3 linked regions of the Homo sapiens genome follow. The main gene of each other region encodes a partner of the protein of the gene in region 2 in a complex. Each region holds a gene or a part of one and is shown on either strand. Other genes may lie near its edges.

Region 1 (7,612 bases), on a different chromosome or scaffold from region 2:
GTGGTGTGCCTGTTTGTGTGTGCATGCATCTGTTGACACTCATGATTCTGAATGTTGCCTGGGCTGGGGGAGTACCTGTAGCACGCCAGTGCTGTTTCCCGGCCTCCAGACACAAGGCTCGAGGTTATGGCAGTGACTTTCAGCTGAGACCTGTTCCTGCAAGCCAGCTGCCTTGTCTGAACAGAACGTAGTGGTAGGACCCTAGCTGGGATTCTGGCATCTGCCTCCCTAGACCTCCTTCCCTCCCTCCTCACGTCAGGCTGTGGAGCAGGAGCACAGCAGTTCTGGCTGTTGTCCAAAGCATGGGATTCTGGAGGCAGCCAGAGCCCTGCTGAGTTCCTGCTTTCTGACCTGGAGGCTGAGCAGGCCGGAGTGGATGGATGCTGTCCAGACGTAGCCACCTGGCCTCTGTTTCTTATTTTAAAATTCTCTGCTACTGGGCTCAGTCCCAGGCCCTTCCTTGGGCTTCTGGGACTGAGCATGAGGCCATAGACAGATCTAAAAAGTTTCCACCACCCTACAGAAGTACACACAGATACCTGACTGGTGTGGGGTATGCCTGGTACTGTAATAGGAGCCTAAGACAGCACACCTACCTTTTCAGGATTTAGAACCTAAAATTAGAAAGAGAATCCCAGCTGTCATTGTTCCTTCCCCAGAAGCTAAGAGCCAGCCTCAGAGCCTACCCAGGAGCTGTGAAGGGGCAAGGGTCAAACTGACTCACTCTACCAGGAGGAGACCAGGTTGCAGTGGCGTAAGGCCCCCTGGTTTCTCTGGCCACACTCCAAGGCACCACAGTGCTGCCAGTGAGGACAGCTGACACCCAGCCAGGGAAACCATTCTAGTCTTTATTCTGTTGGCTTCCAGGGCCTGTCCTGGACTTGTCAGCATCCAGACTGCCATGTCAGCTATCCCAGTAGCTGAGCTCCAAGGACTCAGGCAGAGGGACTCAGGGATGGGGACTGCCAGGGGCAGTTGGCAAAAGTCCAAGTAGAGATTACACCCAGAACACCATTCCTTCCAGGAGCAGTAGGTGGGAGGTTTGACCCAGAGAAGCCAATCCTTGCATTCCAGGAGTGGCCTGTGCCTCCCACCTCTTCCTTCCCACTGCCAAAGGCCTGTGTTGAGAAAGATGTCATGCAAAAGGACGACGGTGGCCAACTAAAGCAAGTCTTCCTTCCACCCTGTGGCCTGCACTTGAGCCACAAAGTGTGTGTGTGTGTGTGCGTGTGTGGTACGTGTGTGTGTGTGTGGCTATGAGGCTGATTCCTGTTTGGATTTTTGTCCTCACGTGTATCATTAAGCTGGCCTTTGGGCCTTTTCCTTTCTACCTCCCCTGTGACCTTTCCTAGCCTCAGATCTGTTAATTCTTTTGGCCCCAGCCCTGTCCCTCACTGTCCTCTGTCCTTGGACCAGAACCCTGGGGTCAGACCCATCTCCTGTAGCTGTCCATCACACTGACAGGCTTCTTCCTGAGATATCCTCAGGTTTTCTCAGCCAGAGAGCTGCCTTTAGAGTCCAACTGTTGTACGTATGTCACCTTCACTAGAAATGTCCCATCATCGTGGGAGGGGAGCAGGGCACAGGGGATGGTGTGCATTCAGAGCATTGGGTTGGGGGCTTCCCTGTTCCCTCAGCCCCAGTCGAGAGGAAAGAGAATCGGGCCACTGCCAGAAAGAGAGTCAAGCAAACCTGGAAGGGCAAATCTGAGAGTGGGAAGGCCAAAGGCCGAGGCCCAGATTTAGTATTCACTAGCAGCGCCTTCGGGTAGCAGGATGATTCCTTTTCCTGCCTGTCTGCTGCTGGCTCTCTTCCCTAAGGTACAGGTTGGCAGGACCACCTCCGCCTACTTCTCCACCATCCCTAGCATGTCAGCCCGTTCCCAGATCAACCTGCCAGTGGAGTCAGGCAGTGCACTCCTGGAGCCAAGAGGGAAGGGCAGGGTAGAGAGGGTATGTCCAGTAGCCTGGAGCTCCATGGTGGCTTCATGCCTCCCTTCTCCCAGCTCAGGTGGCCCTGAGGGCTCCCTCGGAACAGTGCCTCAAATCCTGACCCAAGGGCCAGCATGGGGAAGAGATGGTTGCAGGCAAAATGCACTTTATAGAGATTTTCTATTGCTGGGAAGGTGTGTTTCTCCCACAATTTGTTTGTGAATATTCACTTGTTTTATAAATGTCTGACCTGTCTTGAGTAAGTTTGTGCTGTCGTCAATCTTGTGGGAGGCCTGGGAACCAGGGTTTTGGTAAGCCTGAGCCTGAATGAAGCTGTCGGCCACCCCATCTTGGTTCTGTGGGAGTCAGGAGCCTCCTATTCCTCCTTAGGAAGGGGGAGCAGCCAGAGCAGACTGGAGCAGCTTGGTCAAGAGTTGGTCCAGAGCTTGGTCAAGAGTTGGGGGTCAATTGGCCAAAATAGTACAGAGCACTCTGGCCCAGAGTGAGGGTCCTAAGTGCCATCCTGCAGTGCCACCCAGCCTTGCAGCCCACTTAAACCCCCTCCCAGGCTGGGGGTCAGTCAGTGCAGGGCCTGCTCCACGCCCTCAATCCATCCTTTAATTCAATGCAGCCACTTAAGCTGCAGCCTGTGGTGAGGAGGGGATGCAGGCTCTCTGGCTGTGACTAGGTGGTTGAGATCTGCCCACAGCCAAGCCTAGGGCGCCTGGATGCTGGCTTTGTCTCCTGGCCAGAGAATGGCCCCTCTCTGTGCAGTGTGCCCTGCTTCCATGCTAGGGGATGCTAGCCTTGGACTGAAAGCTTTATTAGCTCACACCCCAACTTTCTGGGAAGGGGCCCAGGCAAGGCCCAAGAATATCACAGTCTGGCCTGCACAGAGTGAAGAAGGAGAAAAGGGGAGGAACCTGCCTTGGGAACTTGTCTCATTCTTGGCTCTGCTCTGAAGCTCCTGCTGGCCTCCCTCATACCAAGACCTGGGCCTGCCTTTCCTTCTTGCCCTTCTGGCTTCTCTCTAATAATGGCTTTGGGTTGGTCTTTGGAGCTAAGATAACTTTGCTCTTGAGCAAAAGGTTCTGGAAGAGGGAGTTGTCCTTTACATCCACCCCTGACCTGCTAAGGATGTTCCCTAGCTGAGGCAGGTCTACATTCTAAGGAACGATTAGTAGCCATGATGGCAAGACTGCTTTCCTGAGAGGAAAAGCCAGGCACCATGGCAGCAGATGATTACCGTGAGGGCCCAGTGAAAGGGGCCTGATCACGAAAGCTGAGAAAGTAGTGGCCACCCCTCTGGGCCCCAGGGACAGGGAAAAGAGAAGCAGCCATGACCTTTGGCTCTAGGTATTGGGATATTCTCAGGGCTGGTGGTCGGAGGTTGCCTTCTGCACGGAAGGTGCCTCCAGCTCCTTGCTAGGTGCCGCACTGAAGGAAAGGGGCCAGCATGACTGGTCGGCAGTCCAGATTTGCAAATAGGACTCCACGAGTTGTGGCACAGTTTGCTCTGCACGTTTTCTGCCCTGTGGACAGGGTCTCTAGGGTTCTCTCGAGAGACCAGAGAAGCCAATGAGGTTTGACCAGAGGCTCTACGACCCAGCAAAGCTAAGGCCCTAGCCTTGGCAGTCCGTACTCTGAAATAACTCAATCGGGAAACTCAGGGACTTGAAGGCCTGGAAGCCCAGGAATAACACCCTCTCGAGGGAGAGACAATGAGGAAGAAGCCATGGCCAAAGCCTAGCAGGGATGGAGGTGCCAGAGGGAACAGAAACAACCAAAATGATCCCAAGAAGTCAACAGTGGGAGGAGAGGGAAAGGCGCCAAGTCTTAGAATGTGTGTCTGTGGGTGCAGAAGAGGGGTGCTCTGCAGGAAATGCAGTTGAGGCGCTAAGAAGGAGAATGCTGGGAAGGTCCTGGCGAGAGACCGAGAAGCCTGGAGGGCTCAATTCACCACGAGTAGCTGTTTGGGGCTGAAGAGAGATTTGGGTCAATCTTTAGAGAAGACAGCCTCTAGGGAGAGTCTTTGGGAGGGTCCCCTCAAGGTAAAGGGACAGGACTGGGGTGAGGGCTGGATCCCAGCGCAGGAGGTGGAGTGTTTCTGGGTCTCAGGCAACACATTTGTGTTACGTTACATTCTCACAACAACCATGAGAGGGACTGCTATTGTCCCATTTCACAGATAAGAAGACCAAACCTTAGTGCTCTGAAGTCACTAATGCAAGGCCCCACTGCCCAGTCACTTGTGGAGCCAGTGAATTCACACCACCTGACTCCAAACCTGTACACTTTAAGAGCCCACTGACATCCTCTCCTTTCTCTGCCTTCCTCCACGACCCTCCTTTTCCGCCTGCCTTCTTGGTCTCTGCTGCGGGGGGCCAACCTGGACCTTGGGGTCCAGTGTCCTGCCATTAGTCATCTGATACCCGGGCACTAAGCCCAACCGGAGGGACAAAGCCCACACCGGCCACGGGGTGGAGGAGAGTCGATGTCGGATTTAGGGCGGGGCTGAACCAAGCCCAGGGCCGCGGGGGCCGTGGCTTCAGCACCGCGGAGAGCGCCATCTCCGGGGGCGGGGCTGGCGGGGTGGGGGCGGGGCCTGGGCGGGGCGCGCGAGACCCCGGCCGGGTCCCGGGGGCGCGCGCGGGGCGCTCTCGCCAGTCCCGCGGGCCGTGCGCGGTGCTGTGCCGCGCCCTGCCAGACACAGGTGCGCCCGCCTAGCCCGAACTCCGCGGCGGCGGCTGCCCTCTCGCCGCGCCTCCGCCTCCTTCGCAGCCGCCGCCTCCTCCGCGCCGCGCTCCGCCCGGATGGCCAGGGCTGTGCCCGAGAATGGCGGAGCGAGAAAGCGGCGGCCTGGGAGGGGGGGCCGCGTCCCCGCCCGCCGCCTCCCCGTTCCTGGGGCTGCACATCGCTTCGCCTCCCAATTTCAGGTGAGAGTCCCCGGCCGCCGCGCGCCTCGCCCTTCAGCGGGGACTGATCCGCATTGGCTGCCCTGCCCGCCCCCCACCCCAGAACCTCGGGAACCCGGGAACGAAAGGGCTGCGTGGGAGTGGGGTCTCTTCCCGGGACAGAGCCCCCCTCAGAAGCCCCGCCAGCCTCAAGTCCGGACTGGTAGCCGTTGCATGTTCACGAGGCTGTTCCCTCCGCCATTCCTGGTCCTAGGCTGGGAGGTCTGCGCTGGAATTGGAGGAGGGGGCTCGGAGGCCTCCTTCTCCCCAACCTCCGGGCTGCGGCAGGGTCTGGGGTCGGGGTTGCGATCCCGGAGCGGGCAGGCAGGCTGCATCTTAGCCTGTGAATAGAGCTGGGAACAGCCTGGAGGGGCGCGGGTCGCAGTTTCCTGGGGCAACGACATTGTTGGTGCTGGGAGGAGGATGTTTGAGCCCCTCCCCGAGCCCTGCCTGGCCAGATGGGCCTACCTGCCAGGCCTGGCGTGGCCGGGCCCCTCTCTGGATTGGGCAGCACCGACCTAGGCAGGTGTGTCTCTCAGGGCAGGCGCTGAAGGCTCAGCCTCAACCAGGGGAATCCTAGGCCCGGCTGCGGGAAGGGAAGTCGGCTCGGCTCTGGAGTAGCCAGGGCCAGCGAGGGTGTCGAGGGGATCCCTGCTGGGGTAAATACCCAGAACCCTGACCTGAGCTCCTATTCCACCACCCCCACCCCCCAATCTGGTGTTAGGCCCGATGCATTTCAGAGAAGTGAGGGGTGAGTGTTGTGTGGAGGAGGAATAGATGTACCTCCCCCATAATTCTGAACCCTAGTTGGTGGGGAGGAAGAGGCCGAAGTCACTGCTCCCGGCCTAGAGAGGGAGGCTTAGACATACCCCATTGTTTCCCCATCTCGAGAACTGGCGCCTTCCCCTCTCCTGGGGCACCACCCCAGCCAGGCTCCAGCTGGGCTGTGGTGCCAGCCCCTCCTGGGAGCAAGGGGTCACTGGCTCCCAGGTCCTCAGGTGGGCAGAGACCCCTGGGGATCTCTAATAGCATCATCAAACTCAGAAACCTTCCCTGAGGCCCTGAGCTGAGCTGGAAGGACCAGAGGGGGCCAGATGGAGGAGGCCAGGCCTGAAGGCTCCAGGGCTGCAGCTCTCTGATAATGCCTTAGACTGAGGTCTGAGACTCCACCTGGCATGGTGCATGAGGCCTCCATGCAAATACTGCCTCCCCACCTGGAGGCCTCTGCAGTGGAAGCACATGGGGCTTAGAGGGACCTGGGTTCAAATCCTAGCTCCACTACTTTCTAACTGCATGACCCAGGCAGGTTTTTGTCCTCTCTGGGTGCCATCTGTTAAGTGGGCTAATTAATATTGATTCTTGCCTGGAAAGGAGAAAAAGCACATCAGGTCAGTGTTCAACAAGTGTCAGCCCCCACACTAGCAGACAACACTACGGCTCGCTGCTGTCCAGAGTGTCTTCCCAAGGCCCCTCCTTTAACCCTCATAACTGCCCCAAGAGAGGGTAGTGACCTGCCCATTTTATAGATGAGGTGATTGAGATTAACAAAGGCAGGGTGGCTCATCTGGAGACTACAAAAGAGTCAGAGACTAAGGCTACACTGGGACCCAGGTCTGTGCGTGTTTAGTCCACTCTACGTCCCAGCCCTGCCTCTGGCCCAGTGGGCAGCTTTTCTTCCTCGACCTGCTTCCCCAGGTGTCATAGATGCTTTAATGAGAGGAGCTGAGGAAGCAGACACCAGCCAGTGAATGTGTGGCCAGCTCTGCGGCATGTGGGACAAGGGTGGCAGTAGGCCACGAGGCTGAGGTGTGGGCCAGCACTCCAGAACATGGTGGCCTGGCTGCGGAGACAAGGCCAGTGCGTGGGAATAATAAGCGTCAGTGTCTCAGGCCCTGCCGGCCTGCCCCGCTGCTCCCAAAGCCCCCGCTGCCCTTTCTCCTGGCCCGCCTCTCACTGTGCTTGGCCAGGCTCCACTTAACCCTGGGTGGGTAGATAGTGCTTTCTTGTGGCTCTTTGGTGGAGTCATAGATCCAACTGGCCTGGGTTTGAATCCTGGCTGGCCCTTCTTACCTGTGTGCCCTGACACTGGGCACTTAAGCCCTCTGAGCCTCTGAGATGCCAGCACTGGCCCCTGCTCAGGATGGTCCTAAGAATCAGATGAGATAACACGTGTTGAGTGTTTCAAGGGCTGAGGAGAGCCGCCTGTAGGCAGGGCTGTGTGTGTGCACACACACACAGGCGCCTTGACCCCCAGTGCCACTGTCAGCTCCCAGAAAATAAAGGGGGTCTGTACCCAAACTTTGGTATCCCCATTGCTCAGCACGGGATAGTTACTCAATAACAGTGGTAAGCGCTGACATTTGGAAGGCACTCAGTTCGCCCAGGCACCATTCTAAGAGTTTCCTATGTGCAAGAGTATTTACTCCTCCCAATAACTGTATCAACAGAGCGTTGTTATTATCCACACTTGCATGAAGAAACTGAGGCAGAGGGAGGTTAGGTAAGTGGCAGAGCTTGTAAGTGGCAGGCAGTCTGATGTCAGAGCCACCCCAAAAAGAAAGAGCCCTAGAGTATTGGAAGAGCATGTGCGGAGGGGGCGAGCATGTGGACCTGACCTGAAGGGGTGGGAGCATTCGTTTGTTTGTGGTAGGTTAAATACGTGTTAATTTTTGTTCTGATTATAGCTCCAGCTGTTTATAGTGGTTGGTTACCTTTGGGTATGGTATG
Region 2 (7,020 bases):
CAAATCAAACTCACTCTTTGCACCCTCTCACTCCTGTGCTTTCCTGACTTGATTTTTGCATTTTTCCAAGCTTAAGACCCTCCTGTCTACATTCATTCACTTCATACTTCTCATATCTTGACCTCTACTTTGACTGCATGCTCTCTGACACCAGACTAAATTATATTTCCGGGAGCTGCCTCTGGGTGCTAAGCACATAGAAAGCAGCCTATACACATAGTCACACCTTGCTTAAGGACGGGGATACCTTCTGAGAAATGCATCATTAGGCAATTTCGTCACTGTGCAAACATCATGGAATCTACTTACACCAACCTAGATAGTACAACATACCTAAGCTATAATATGGTGTAGCCTACTGACCCTAGGCTACGAACCTGTACAGCAGGTTACTGTACTGAATACTGCAGGCAACTGTAACACAATGGGAAGTATTTGTGTATCTAAACATAGAAAAAATAGAGTAAAAATATGGTATAATTTTATGGGACCACTGTCACATATGTGGTCTGTAATGGACCGAAACCTCACCATGTGGTGCATGACTGTATCATCAAATAAGACACAAGGCAGTTAACTGCTAATCCTACATTCACTATCAAGTGATCCCCAACTTGTCCATTTAACATTTTGAAAACCACAATTCATTTCAAGTTACATTAACTTTAGAGAGAAAACTTCACACTACTTTAAGTATTCCCATAATCCCTCCCTAATTTCATTATTATTCATAACATTTAAATACTCAACAGATAAACAGATATTTTGGCTCATTTTACATATAATGGAGGAAAACTATAATCTTCTAAAATCACCACTATAAATGCAATAAGAAAAAATATAAGAGTATAAAAAGTTGGGGGAGGGAGGAGGTAAAAATCAAAGGAAACAAAAAAGCTGGCATGACATAAGAAAAATAAAAAATTCAACTACAAAACTATTAGAAATAATAAATATTCTACAGGGGGCTTATTATTTAATATATGAAATATTAACTAATATACAAAATAAAAAGCTTTCTTATATATAACCAGATAGAAGATAAAAGTGGAAAAAAAGATGCCATTTCCAGCAAAAAAAAAAAAACTTAAATATATAAAACAGCAAAAAAAAATTTTAATGTTTAAAAATGCTATCAGGAACTCAAAATGAGACTTCAACAAATGAAAAGGTTGTTTTTCCTATTCTTGGATATAAAGGTACATCATAAAGCTGTCACTTATTCTATAAATACAAAGAAATCCTAACAGTACACTGAATCCATTTAATAGAAGCCAATCACTGGGGAGCAAGGTAACTTGAAAAGGATGTAAGAAAAGGTTCTGGGTGATGGAAGTGTTCTGTATTTTGATCTGGGATTGCACAAGTGTATACAAAGGCAAACTTATTGGACTGTAATGCTTGTGCATCTAGCTGTGCATAATTTTACCACAATAAAATAAAAAAAGTGATTCCAACAGAAAGACTGGCAGAGGAGGGGTACAGACTAGACTAGATGGGTTGTTTTTAGAAGTTCATATAAAATAAACAAGATAGAAGCCAGAAAAAAACTTCTGAAAAGGAAGAGAAATAAAAGGGAATTAGACCTAGCAGAAAACACAGCATAAACTACAATAATAAAAACAGGATGGCTCAGGTCCCAAACAGGCAGATGGGTCAATGGAAACAATGGTACCAAATACACGTGGAAATTTTGTAAATGGTAAAGGTGGCATTTTAAATCAGTTAAGACAAAGATGGATTATTTAATAAATGGTGTAGGGACAAATGGATGGATATCTGGTGAAGAAAATAAAGTTGGAACCATACATAATAGCCTACCATAGAATGGAAAACAGCAAATTGGGGAAAAACATTTCCAAAAAATAGCATGGAGCCAATTTGTAAAATTAATCCTACAAATCTAGGAAAATGAGCAACAAAGCAATAGAAAAACATGCAAAGACAAGGACAGTTCAAAAGAAAGAAAACACAAACAGCCCTTAAAAGATGAAAGACGTCTAAGGGTAATAAGAAGCAGGCATCCTTACACAGTGCTGGTGGAATGGAAGTTGGACAACCTCTACAGGCTACACTTCAGCAATACATAAAATTACAAATGCACATACGCTGGCCTAGGAACTCTACCTCTGGAAATTTATCCTATGCATTTAAGTGCAACACGACGTATGCACAAGGTAATCCACTGCACCATGGCTTTTGATAGCAAAAGTCTGAAAACTACCTAAATATGCATCAGAAAGGAGTTAAATGGTATACCAGTATAATGATGTTATGGACTGTCTGTGTCCCTCCAAATTCATATGTTGAAGGCCTACCCTCTAACTTGATAGTATCTGGAGGAGAGACCTTTAGGAGTTAACTAAGCCTCTCATGACTATATTAGGTCATGAGGGTGGAGCCCCCATGATAGGATGAGGAACAGACTAGAGCTCTTAGGGGCCATGTGAGGATACATCCAGAAGCCGGCCACCTATAAAGCCAGGAAAAGGACCCTCACCAGGGAACCAAATTGACTAAGTAGCCTAATCTTGAACTTCCCGACCTCCAGAACTGTGAGAAATAAATTTCTGTTGTTTAAACCACTCAAGTTATGGTATTTTGATATAGCAGCCCAAACAGAGTAAGACAAATGGAATACCACAAAGATGTTAAAAAAGCATGCCATTTACATACTGATATGACTGATATAAAATAATCTCTCAGCTATATTAAAACAAAAAGCAGGCCACGTGCGGTGGCTCACACCCGTAATCCCAGCACTTTGGAGGCCAAGGCAGGTGGATCACCTGTAATCCCAGCTACTCAGGAGGCTGAGGCAGGAGAATCACCTGAACCTCGGAGGCAGAGGTGGCAGTGAGCTGAGATTGTGCCACTGCACTCCAGCCTGGGCAACAAGAGTGAGACTCCGTCTCAAAAAACAAACCAACAAGCAAAAAACAAAAAAGCAAAAGGTGATACATATTGCATGCAACAACTTACATTAAATAAAAAGGGAGGGAGCAGAGCAGAGGCTATACAGTACTGTATATATGTATGACACCTATCCTTCATTGGCAAAGCCAAAATCCATAAAGCTGTGAAAAATACGTTTTTAAAATAAGTTTAGTACAAACGTATTTGGTGGTAAAACCTGACGAGACGTAGCATAAGATTTTATAATCTTTATTCACCCTACTTGTATTTGTTATGCTTTTATAAAAATATTAATGTCTTTGATTATTTCTGGGTGTTGTTGTTGTTGTTGTTTTTTGAGACAGAGTCTACACCTCTGCCGCCCAGGCTGGAGTGTAGTGGCACGATCTCAGCTCACTGCAACCTCCGCCTCCTAGATTCAAGAGATTCTCCTGCCTCAACCTCCCAAGTAGCTGGGATTACAGGCGTACGCTACCACGCCCAGCTAATTTTTGTATTTTTAGTATAGACGGGGTATCACTATGTTGGCCAAGCTGGTCTCAAACTCCTGACCTCAGGTGATCCGCCCGCCTCGGCCTCCCAAAGTGCTCAGATTACAGGCGTGAGCCACCGCGCCTGGCCTATGTCTGTATTTTTTACAGAAATGTTAATGTGTTTAATCATGAGGCTACAACCTCTTACTAGGGATTTTGGATAACACGGTAGATGTGCTACATTATCTTTCCACAACTGCAAAAAAAGCCTTCATTCTAAAATACATCTGGACCAAGGATTTTGAACAAAGGATTATATACTTAAACATATATAAACTATCTTTGGAAGTATTCACAGGAATTTTAACAGTTTCCAGGCAGAAGAACTAGGTGGCTACACAGAGTAGAAAAGGAGATTCTTTATCTTTTTAAATCTTTGGAATTTTGAGTCAAAGTGAATTCATTACTACTTAGTCAAAATATAAAATGTAAACAAATTAAAACATTAAGACTTTTAAATTCTCAATAGTAACAGCCAAAGCTAGATGCTTTGGTTTTTGTTTAACTGAAAAGTGACGCTTTCTCAAGTCACAGAAAAATCCACACAGCAGTAGCTTTTCTTTATCTTACCTTTGGTTGACCCAATGGCATCTGAAAATCAGAAAGCCATCCTTCCTGGAACAAGTCAGAAAATGGTGATTTTTCTACCCAATTAATGACTTTTAGGAAATAACATCTTATGGTTTTGATGTTTCCTGCCAAGCAAAGCAAGTGCTTGTGTGTGGCTATTTTTCGTTTCTAGTTTCCCCAGAAATATGGTGGGTGGCAGGCTTGAGTCTCTCAGCACCAAGAGGCAGTACTGGAGGACTATACTTCTCAATACTGGAGAGAGACTTTAAAAAGTGTTTCTAGTACAGATCCAGCCTTACATCATAAGAGCTTCAATACAGAGGAGATTGAGAACTCTGGTTAGTACCTGAGTAGCATCTTTTCTACTGTCAGCTTTTCATATTTCTCATATACTTATTTTGATACCCTGTTGTATTCCAAAATGAATTCATAAGGTTTGCCTTTTCTTATGATTTGGATTTTGACTAATGTGCACCACACTCTCAACTTAAACCAGGAATCAGAAAAGAAGATATCTTGCTTTCTCAGGTTTATCGAGTGAGTACAAAGGCATGGCAAGAGATGTAAGGTTTGGAAGGCCCCAAATGCCCCAATGACAAAAGAAATTCCTAATGAAATGACTAACAATATTTGCTTCCTTGTGTTAGGACATAAATGTGCTTACGTTAATCCTTATCTTCTATCAAATTATACTCAGCTCACTGAGGGTAGAAACTGACTTCTATTTCCTTTGGTTCCTACATCACCGAATACCTGGATTAGTATAGTGCAATGCTCAGTAAATACTGCCGAAGTAAAAACCAGTGTCATCTCATAGTAGATGCTCTTGAGAAGGAACAAGAAATTTAATCCACCATTATAATCATAGAAACGCTAAACAGAAGACTTAGAAAACCACAGAAAATACAGAAAAGATAATATTTCTAAGTGGTACTAATAAATAATCTCCCTCATTTTTTAAGAGGCCTCCAGGCCTCAATGAATTGTTGTGGTTACCAGGTCTCTGACAAATCTGCAATCTTCACAGAATCGAAGATCCCAATAACACTAAATTTAAAAGATGTGACAGCATTCCATTTTCTTCAAATGTGTCACATGATAAAGCTATTCGTAGCTCCTAAATTCTCATTCCTTTAGATGTCTATAACAAACCTAGGAAAGCTTAGGCAATTTTCTCCTGTGGGAAAAGGCAAAAAATCGTGAAAGTGGCAAATATGTTCCCTTCAATATTTGCTTCTGGAACATTTCCAAATTTTAAGATAGAGAGGATTACTGGTCCAAATGTTAATATAAATCATCTCAGTCAATTCAGATTACATGAGATGATCGAATTTTAAATAAACCCCCCAGAGATGCAGAGTGAAACAAATGGCATATTCTGGAGAATTAGAATGGACACTGTGCATTAAACTGGTTTGACGTTTACTTGGCATTTTATGTTTGTTCAAAGTTAAATATAAGTGATAACAATAGCAAAAACTACCTGAATACTTGTATCTAGCATTCCAGCCACCACAACAGTGCCAGGCACTTTACATGCAGTACCTAATTTAAACCTCACAGCCCTATGAGGTTACGTGCTATTATTATTCTCATTTGACAGATAATAAAACAGGCCCAAATATGTTATATAACCTGAACTAGCCTATACCACAGTTAGATTGGAGCACGATTAGAACTCAGGGCTGACCTTAAAACCCACGCTAGCAATCATTGTAAGGTTTGAGTTCCTTGACTTTCTAAAGAATGGCAGATTTTAACTAAATCTGAAATATAATAAAGGGTAACAGGAAACACAGGTATCTCTTGTATTTGTGATATAACCCACCTCCAAGAAAAAGAATGGAAGCTACTAAGTTTTCCAAAAAGGGGTCTCCTCTCTGTCTCTCTCCATGCACATACGTATACACACATACACACACACACACACACACACACAATTTTAAAAACTGGATTTCAGTGAAATTTGGCCTGCACAGAGATGTGAAGTGGGCTTTTGTTTGGCGGGAACCCTTTCATATACCTTTTAAAAGAGCATAAATTAACTGTTTAGCGATGCCTTCAGTCTAATCCTTGATTATAAGCTTCCTGAGGATAATGAACTCATTTTATGTCTTCCACAAAGTCTCTGGGAGCATACGGTCTCATTAGAAGGCATGATGCTGTGGAATAAATAAAAGCCTACCTTTCCAAGAATCTCTAGCTTATGGTGAAGCCTTCCATTTGTTTTCTAAGTCTGGATATTAAAGAAAAAATTCAACTCAACAATTTTTTTGGCTTCTGAAAATTACAAAATTACAAAATCCTAACTTTGACTACTGTTCTTAACTTAGGCTTCTGATTATCACCCAAGAAGGGCTCTTTTTGTCCTAGTATGTTTTCTCAAGAACCACCTATCTGAGGAACAAGCCTTCTATAAAAAAAAGTTCTGACAGCCTCAGTTTATACTTTTAAAGCCAAAAACATTAAGGCACTTGCCTAAAGCTCCAGAATTTGATGACAAAGTCCAGATGGCAGAACTGAGAAATGAACCTAGGTCTGATTCCTGGATTGCTCTAGCTCCACCTATTGACCTGAATGACAGGATAACTCATTTCAATACTCCTGTTACCTTTCAGTCAACTCACTTCTGAAATCAAAGTTCAACTTAACCTGCATTAAGAGTAAGAATGCAAGGCTTCTAAATGTTCAGGTAAAGAGCTCATGATTAAGACAATCAGCATCACAGTTCACTGACATAGGCAAATGATTCATATATAAAGCTATGTGGTTATAATGACTTCCTTGGACCACATGAATCAGAAAAGCTACTACCCATACCATTGACTTGACCAGAGACCTCTAGAGCACTGGAATCCTAATGTCAGACATTATTTTGTATTTCCACTCGTGCAACAAAGCATCTCAACCATGTAGATGACTGAAATATGTCAAAATTCAACCCGCTGGCAAAGCAGACCAACAAGAAGCAGGCTCCTATTCAACAACCTCTTAGCACTAG
Region 3 (7,161 bases), on a different chromosome or scaffold from region 2:
GTAAATATTTCACGTTCTTTGGAGCAATTGTAAAATGGTTCTGTTTTTAATTTCTGTTTCCACATTTTTTATTATTATTTTTTATTTTTTATTATTTTTTTTTTATTGATCATTCTTGGGTGTTTCTCGCAGAGGGGGATTTGGCAGGGTCACAGGACAATAGTGGAGGGAAGGTCAGCAGATAAACAAGTGAACAAAGGTCTCTGGTTTTCCTAGGCAGAGGACCCCGCGGCCTTCCGCAGTGTCTGTGTCACTGGGTACTTGAGATTAAGGAGTGGTGATGACTCTTAACGAGCATGCTGCCTTCAAGCATCTGTTTAACAAAGCACATCTTGCACCGCCCTTAATCCATTTAACCCTGAGTGGACACAGCACATGTTTCAGAGAGCACAGGGTTGGGGGTAAGGTCACAGATCAACAGGATCCCAAGGCAGAAGAATTTTTCTTAGTACAGAACAAAATGAAAAGTCTCCCATGTCTACTTCTTTCTACACAGACACGGCAACCATCTGATTTCTCAATCTTTTCCCCACCTTCCCCCCCTTTCCATTCCACAAAACCGCCATTGTCATCATGGCCCGTTCTCAATGAGCTGTTGGGTACACCTCCCAGACGGGGTGGTGGCCAGGCAGAGGGGCTCCTCACTTCCCAGTAGGGGCGGCCGGGCAGAGGCGCCCCTCACCTCCCGGACGGGGCGGCTGGCCAGGCGTGGGGCTGACCCCCCCACCTCCCTCCCAGACAGGGCGGCTGGCCTGGCGGGGGCTGAGCCCCACCTCCTTCCCGGACTGGGTGGCTGCCGGGCGGAGACGCTCCTCACTTCCCAGACGGGGTGGCTGCCGGGCGGAGGGGCTCCTCACTTCGCAGACGGGGCGGCTGCCGGGCGGAGGGTCTCCTCCCTTCTCAGACGGGGTGGCTGGGCAGAGACGCTCCTCACCTCCCAGACGGGGCGGCGGGGCAGAGGCGCTCCCCACATCTCAGACGATGGGCGGCCGGGCAGAGACGCTCCTCACTTCCTAGATGGGATGGCAGCCGGGAAGAGGCGCTCCTCACTTCCTAGATGGGATGGCGGCCGGGCAGAGACGCTCCTCACTTCCAGATGGGGCAGCCAGGCAGAGGGGCTCCTCACGTCCCAGACGATGGGCAGCCAGGCAGAGACGCTCCTCACTTCCCAGATGGGGTGGCGGCCGGGCAGAGGCTGCACTCTCAGCACTTTGGGAGGCCAAGGCAGGCGGCTGGGAGGTGGAGGTTGTAGCGAGCCGAGATCACGCCACTGCACTCCAGCCTGGGCACCATTGAGCACTGAGTGAACCAGACTCAGTCTGCAATCCCGGCACCTCAGGAGGCCGAGGCTGGCGGATCACTCACGGTTAGGAGCTGGAGACCAGCCCGGCCAACACAGCGAAACCCCGTCTCCACCAAAAAAATACGAAAACCAGTCAGGCGTGGCGGTGCGTGCCTGCAATCGCAGGCACTCAGCAGGCTAAGGCAGGAGAATCAGGCAGGGAGGTTGCAGTGAGCCGAGATGGCAGCAGTATAGTCCAGCTTCGGCTCGGCATCAGAGGGAGATCGTGGAAAGAGAGGGAGCGGGAGCGGGAGCGGGAGAGGGAGAGGGCTGTTTCCACATATTTATTGTTAGTATGTAGAAAACCTTTCTTAGTAAAAGAAAGAAATGTACTCTTCGGTGAAGTAAACTTGTTTAGTGGTTTCCCCTTCACCTGCTGGGCAGGTAACAATCTATTTATTCTAACATTCAAGTACCTCCACAATGTGCCTCTGTATCTCTTAAATTTAACCTCATACCTAATTGCTAAATACCGATTTCTACTGCTACTGGGTTTACTCTTCTGTCACTTGAATACACCTTACTCATTATTCATTCCACCTCCATGTCTTGGCTCATTGCCATTTGCCCTCTGGAATCTTCCCTCCACTGGCTTCTTCACTGCAAACTAAATCTGAACTGTCCTTCAAGGATAAGGTCAAAACTCTTTATAAGGTGCCTTCCCTGATAATCCCAGCCTACATTGCTCCTTTTCTCCCCTGATGTTTTTTTTTGTTTGTTTGTTTTTTTTTTTTTTTTTGAGATGGAGTCTCACTCTGTTGCCAGGCTGGAGTCTGGAGTGCAGTGGTGCGATCTCGGCTCATTGCAACCTCCACCTCCCGGGTTCAAGTGATTCTTCTGCCTCAGCCTCCTGAGTAGCTGGGACTACAGGCGCCCACCACCACGCCTGGCTAATTTTTGTATTTTTAGTAGAGACGGGGTTTCACCATGTTGGCCAGGATGGTCTCGATCTCTTGACCTCATGATCCACCCGCCTCGGGCCTCCCAAAGTGCTGGGATTATAGGCTTAAGCCACCACGCCCGGCCCCCTGACTCTTTTAACCAATATTGTACATCACTCAATCATTGATTTCGTTTTTAATGAGCTTTAATATACGTCTTGTTTCCAGAAATAGATGAAATACCCTGAGAGACTTCTATGATAGCTATGATGGCACCACATCATACATTACACAAACTTAATTGTGTAACTGAGGAAAGGGGAGAAACGTTTCAAGCCATGTCAGTTAAAGCAAGGTTACTGGAACTTTGGCATGCAAAGGGGATACCATTAATTCTCATGAATCTTTCCTCCAGGCAAGATCCATGCTCTGTACCACTAGTAAAAGGACTATCTTCTTCTTCCTTCCTAAAAATCCCAACACCTCCAACAAAGGTCTACAGTTAGATTTTTAGGGGTTTCCTGGTAGAGCACAAATAATCCCAAGGAAGCTGCAGTAACACCTCCTGGCCACCAGAGGACAGGGAGCAGTGGGAGAGATTTGCTTCCCCTAGCAAAGTCTTCAAGAGGCCAGAGGCACAGGCTCAAAGTTGCTTCTCCATCTGTGGCCTTCAGGCTTTACCTACTACTGCCAGAGGTGCTAGGGTGCCTCCCATCTTCAAATGGGCTTTTTTTTTCCCTCCTATAAAAGATGGGCCAGAAGTTCCCAGGGCCATACCCCGCAACACTAACCTTCAATGATTACCAATCATAAGGAATGCCTTTAGTTGCAGGACTTAAAGGCAGAAAAGTAGTAACAGGGGTGTATTATCTTTCGAACCCACCCAAACCTGCTTATCAGTTCTTTTGCTAGTGGAAAAACGTGCTTTAGGCAGGGTGCACATGGATATCCCACAGCAAACAGTGCCTTTAGGGTCTAGTGTCCCAATCCGGCACATTGTAAATGGAATATTTGAAGAGTTAGATTATTCCTACACATAAATTCTGGCTCATGGAGCAGTCCACTCGCAGGGTGCTTTTCCGTCATTAATCACATCTTTGTTATGTGATATCCACGTGAGTACTTCTCAGTAGAAGCAGCTTCATGCTCAAATGCTCAAAGAACATTGGAATAAAGCTCCGATTGTCCTATTCAGTGATTCCAAGTCCTGGTTTGTCACCACCTCAGGTCTCTCGTTTTCCAAAGTGCATAATGTCATCTCAAAACAGACATTTTAATGAATTCAAATAATAAAATGCACGAGGTATGTGGAGTTAAATCAACAAGGGTTTTGTACCTCTCAAGAGGCGGTTAACCCCTGGTCTTATTTAAAGATGTTTCTGCGCTGCCTCCTGTAGAAAACATTTTTAAAGAAAATGTAGGCTGCTTATCCTTGTATTTGTAAATATAAGCAAAGTAAAGTAATGTAGGAACATTTATGTGGGGGCTTTCAACCATAAACATATAGATAGCTGAATGCCTGACAACAGTAGTGTGATTTTTCTTGAAGTACCTGTAACTTCTCTCCTGAGAGATGGCAGAGCCTTGCCTTTTGCATTCGCCAGACTTTTTACAGAGCGAGTGTAATTCTCTCAAATCAGTGTTTGCGTTTTTTGACGTTGGTGAGGCAGCTGGAAACAGCTCAAGGAGGAGGGAAAGGTTCTGCGTCTGGGTGAGGGAGAAAACCCTCCGATACCTGTTGGGGCGCAGCACTGGAGGCGGACACCCCGGCCCGGGGGTCGGGGCCGCGAGCCCGGGGGTAGGGGGCGGGCGCGCGGGCGCGGGAGGAGGAGGAGGAGGAGGGAGAGGTGGGGGAGGAGGCCGCGGGGCCGCCTCCTCCGGCAGCTCCGGCTCCTCCCAGCGGCGCCCGCGGAACCTGCCTCAGAGTCGCCGGACTCTGGAAGGGAACATGACCTGACCCCTCCCCGAGCGGCCGGAACGAGGCGCGGAGCCGCGCTCCGGGCTCGGGCGGCCGCGGGATGGGCGAGCGCGCGGCCCCGCCCGGCGCCCACCGCCCTGCCCTCGCCTGTCTCCTCCTTTCCCCGGGGCTCCGCTGAGTTCATTCACTGGGATTGGTTTCAAGTGACGCCATCTCTTTATTTTTAAACCAATGACCTCATCCGCGCTTGAAGTTTCCTGACCAGCGACTCTTTCTCTTTCCCCCAACCCCCCACCCCACCCCCCCGCCTTTCCCCCTCTTTCTATGTATCAGTGTTTGGGGGGCTTTAATCAGTTTTTAAACGATTATTACCACCTCTCTCTCCCCCCCAACCCCCACTTTCACAACGCGGCCCCCCACCTTTACCTCCCTAAGTTCTTCATCTCTTTCGACATTTTTTTTGAAGGCTGATGGGGGGGAGGGTGGAAGAGAAAGAGTGAAGAAAAGTTGCGAGCGTCTCCTCTCTTCCTAAGCCTCCCGCCCCAACCCACCCCTCAGAGAAGGAGAAGATAATATACTGAAAAGAAGAGGAGGAGGAGAGCGACGGGACGGGACGCGAGCGGGAGCGCAGCCGCCCTCTCGGCTCCGCGGCGGCGCCTCGCAAGTCCGGGAGGCGAGGGGGGCCCGAGGGGAGACGCCGTGACAACTTTCGTTTCCCTCTGAGGGAATTGGGAGGTCGGCGGCCCCAAAAGTAAGTGGCCTTGGCGGGCCGCGCGGGGTGTGCGGGCGGGAGGGTGCGGGGCCCGGGGCGCCCTCCCGCCCGGCCGCATGGACGCTCCGCAGCGCGCCCCGACTCCCGGTGCCGGGCGCCGCGCTCCAGCCCCGCCGTCTCTGCCTTCCCGGGCGTACCGGCCACCCTTTCGGGAGGCGGCGTGGGGGCGACCGCGGCCGGGGGCCGCAGGAGCGTTTGAAGCGGGGGTGTAGGCCTGGCCGGAGGCTGGCCGGAGCGGGAAGGGGGCGTGCGGCCGGGCGCGGGGTCGCAGTGGGTGCGCTCCCGGCCGCTGCGCGGCGCTTGGACCGGGCCCCGCCGAGAGGAGCGGCCGCCGCGGGACGCGGCACCTTTGCGGGCGAAGCTGCTCACTTCCAGGCGCGACTGTTACACAACACGCCTGCCAAGTGGGGCCCTGGCCTGACTGTTCCCATTATCCCCAGTTCGCCTTTGGTGTAAGCAGCGAGGCCACCTGGGTGGTGACGGTGCTGCTTTCTTCAACCAACCAACCGAAAAAGCCCTCAATTTTCGGACAGGGGCTCGGGTCTTGGCGTTGGGGGGCCCGACGCCTAGTGACTTCTTTATTTACACTAGCTGCAAAACGTGAGAAATAAAAAAGCCCAGGGTCTGTGTATCACGTGTAGTTTCATGTAATGAAACACCACAGAGGGAAATATTTTCAGATGCTGGGTTTATTTCCTAAAGAATACCAATAATGAACCAGAGAAAAGGCAAGTAGATCTGAAAATGAATGGATACTGCAAAATCCTAAAGAAGTTTAGGAAACATCAACTGCAAGGATTCTTGGCGTTTTGAAGTCGTGGGTGTCTCAGATTGGAGAAAGCACACCTCTAACCAGCCTGTGATGAATAAGCTGGGGAGGAAAAAAACCTGTTGCATAATCTCATTTGCCGTGGGGTTTGCTGTGCCATCCCCTTGAACCAAAGGGAAGTGAGTTAAGATGCAGGGTTTTAAAACTCTCTGAAGTTTTTATTTACCCAGCGCTCTGGCTCCCACTTCTGTTTTAAAAGATTATAAGTAAATACTCTGCTCTTTCAAGTGAACCAAACCTATCAAACCTGTTTAGAAAATAAACCAGGTATGTTTCTTTCTCTTCTTTCTTTTCCGCCTCTGTGTGTGTGTGTGTGTGTGAAATTTACCATCCATGCAAAAGTTTAGGACTAGTGTTTGGGGAACTGAGACTGTCAGAAAAATGCCTCTTTATGCCACTCACCTTATGGGGCTGATGGAGAGTCCACGTAAAGGATAACCGTTTCCTCAAAGGATTTATGCTGTTTCACCTCCATCAAGAAAAGGGCTTTTTAAAGTTAAGGTAAAATTTTAAAAGAAAAGATTTCGTACCAATTGAATTAATTACTCTTTAATACCTACTTTTCCTTGAGTATCACATATATTGGTGGATACCACTTGGGAGGCTCGTGGAGTCTATTTGGTGAAGGCAGCAGCTTGGAGAAGTAAAATGAAAAGCAGAATGTATGGCTCTGTGTAGGGATTTTAGTAAAAATGTGAGTAGGCACGGTGAAAGGTTTTTGTTTTTTAAAATTGTGGAATTTACTGAGTTTGAAGACAATGTGGAAAGTTGCATTAAAATTTTTTTTAATTTGGCTAACATTTACAGTCTTATGTAAAAATATAGGCTAAATAACACCAGCCCAAGAGTTGGATTTTAGGTAAAATAATTTTTGCACTTATCAAAATTCTACATGGGGGAAAAATTAGAAATGAATTTATTTTGAATTTTGTTAGTGTGAATAGTGTTTTGAAAATAACTCGGTTCAAGTACTATAAATGTACATTCAGATAAAAAATGTAAACTGTGGTAATTAATTTTTTTTTTCTTTTTTAGTATTAACCTCTGCTATATCAGCAACTCAAAGTACAATATCTCATTTGGCTTGATTATAGTGCCAAATGATCATAGTGCATGATTATGGAGGGGGCTAGGAACAGAACTGCAGAATTATCCAGTTTTGCTCCTTTTTCAATTTAGAATGCCCTATCCTTTCGTTCAGTTTGGTGATTGTAAGTGTGTACCTATAAAATAAAAATAGACATGTAAAATTGGGGATTGGAGTCTTTGGGCCAAAAGCTTAATGGCAGTAACTGAGAAGGCAGTAAAAGAGGAGACACTGTTACCCCGGTTCTTTTCCTTTTTCCTACACGTTTAAAAATTATTTGTGGGACAGTTGAGAGTGGAAGTGAGGCTGAGATGGGAGGGGGGAAGAGTAGG

What was found. The genes of interacting proteins can lie anywhere in the genome.
Region 1: the proteins of MAPK8 (region 2) and MAPK8IP1 are in contact, whole or in part, in a crystal structure (PDB 3VUM), measured with the Homo sapiens proteins. Residues at the interface, in NP_001310257.1 of Homo sapiens: Lys83, Asp112, Ala113, Gln117, Val118, Met121, Leu123, Glu126, Arg127, Tyr130, Tyr133, Val159, Lys160, Ser161, Asp162, His286, Val323, Trp324, Asp326, Glu329; in NP_005447.1 of Homo sapiens: Arg157, Pro158, Lys159, Arg160, Pro161, Thr162, Thr163, Leu164, Asn165, Leu166.
Region 3: the proteins of MAPK8 (region 2) and DUSP16 are in contact, whole or in part, in a crystal structure (PDB 4YR8), measured with the Homo sapiens proteins. Residues at the interface, in NP_001310257.1 of Homo sapiens: Arg189, Val196, Ile197, Leu198, Gly199, Asp229, Ile231, Trp234, Gln253, Thr255, Val256, Thr258, Tyr259, Val260, Asn262, Arg263; in NP_085143.1 of Homo sapiens: Phe215, Leu267, Asp268, Tyr271, Lys275, Pro279, Ile281, Ser282, Pro283, Asn284, Phe285, Asn286, Leu288, Gly289, Gln290, Leu292, Asp293.

Annotation. Positions count from the first base shown.
Region 1 is NC_000011.10:45,881,055-45,888,666, forward strand, and holds the start of MAPK8IP1 (C-Jun-amino-terminal kinase-interacting protein 1), read left to right. Parts: upstream 1-4,596; 5' UTR 4,597-4,766; coding exon 4,767-4,867; intron 4,868-7,612. UniProt on the Homo sapiens protein: The JNK-interacting protein (JIP) group of scaffold proteins selectively mediates JNK signaling by aggregating specific components of the MAPK cascade to form a functional JNK signaling module. Required for JNK activation in response to excitotoxic stress.
Region 2 is NC_000010.11:48,309,668-48,316,687, reverse strand, and holds part of MAPK8 (mitogen-activated protein kinase 8), read right to left. Parts: intron 1-7,020. UniProt on the Homo sapiens protein: Serine/threonine-protein kinase involved in various processes such as cell proliferation, differentiation, migration, transformation and programmed cell death.
Region 3 is NC_000012.12:12,559,848-12,567,008, reverse strand, and holds the start of DUSP16 (dual specificity protein phosphatase 16), read left to right. Parts: upstream 1-4,145; 5' UTR 4,146-4,892; intron 4,893-5,893; exon of another isoform or gene 5,894-6,009; intron 6,010-7,161. UniProt on the Homo sapiens protein: Dual specificity protein phosphatase involved in the inactivation of MAP kinases. Dephosphorylates MAPK10 bound to ARRB2.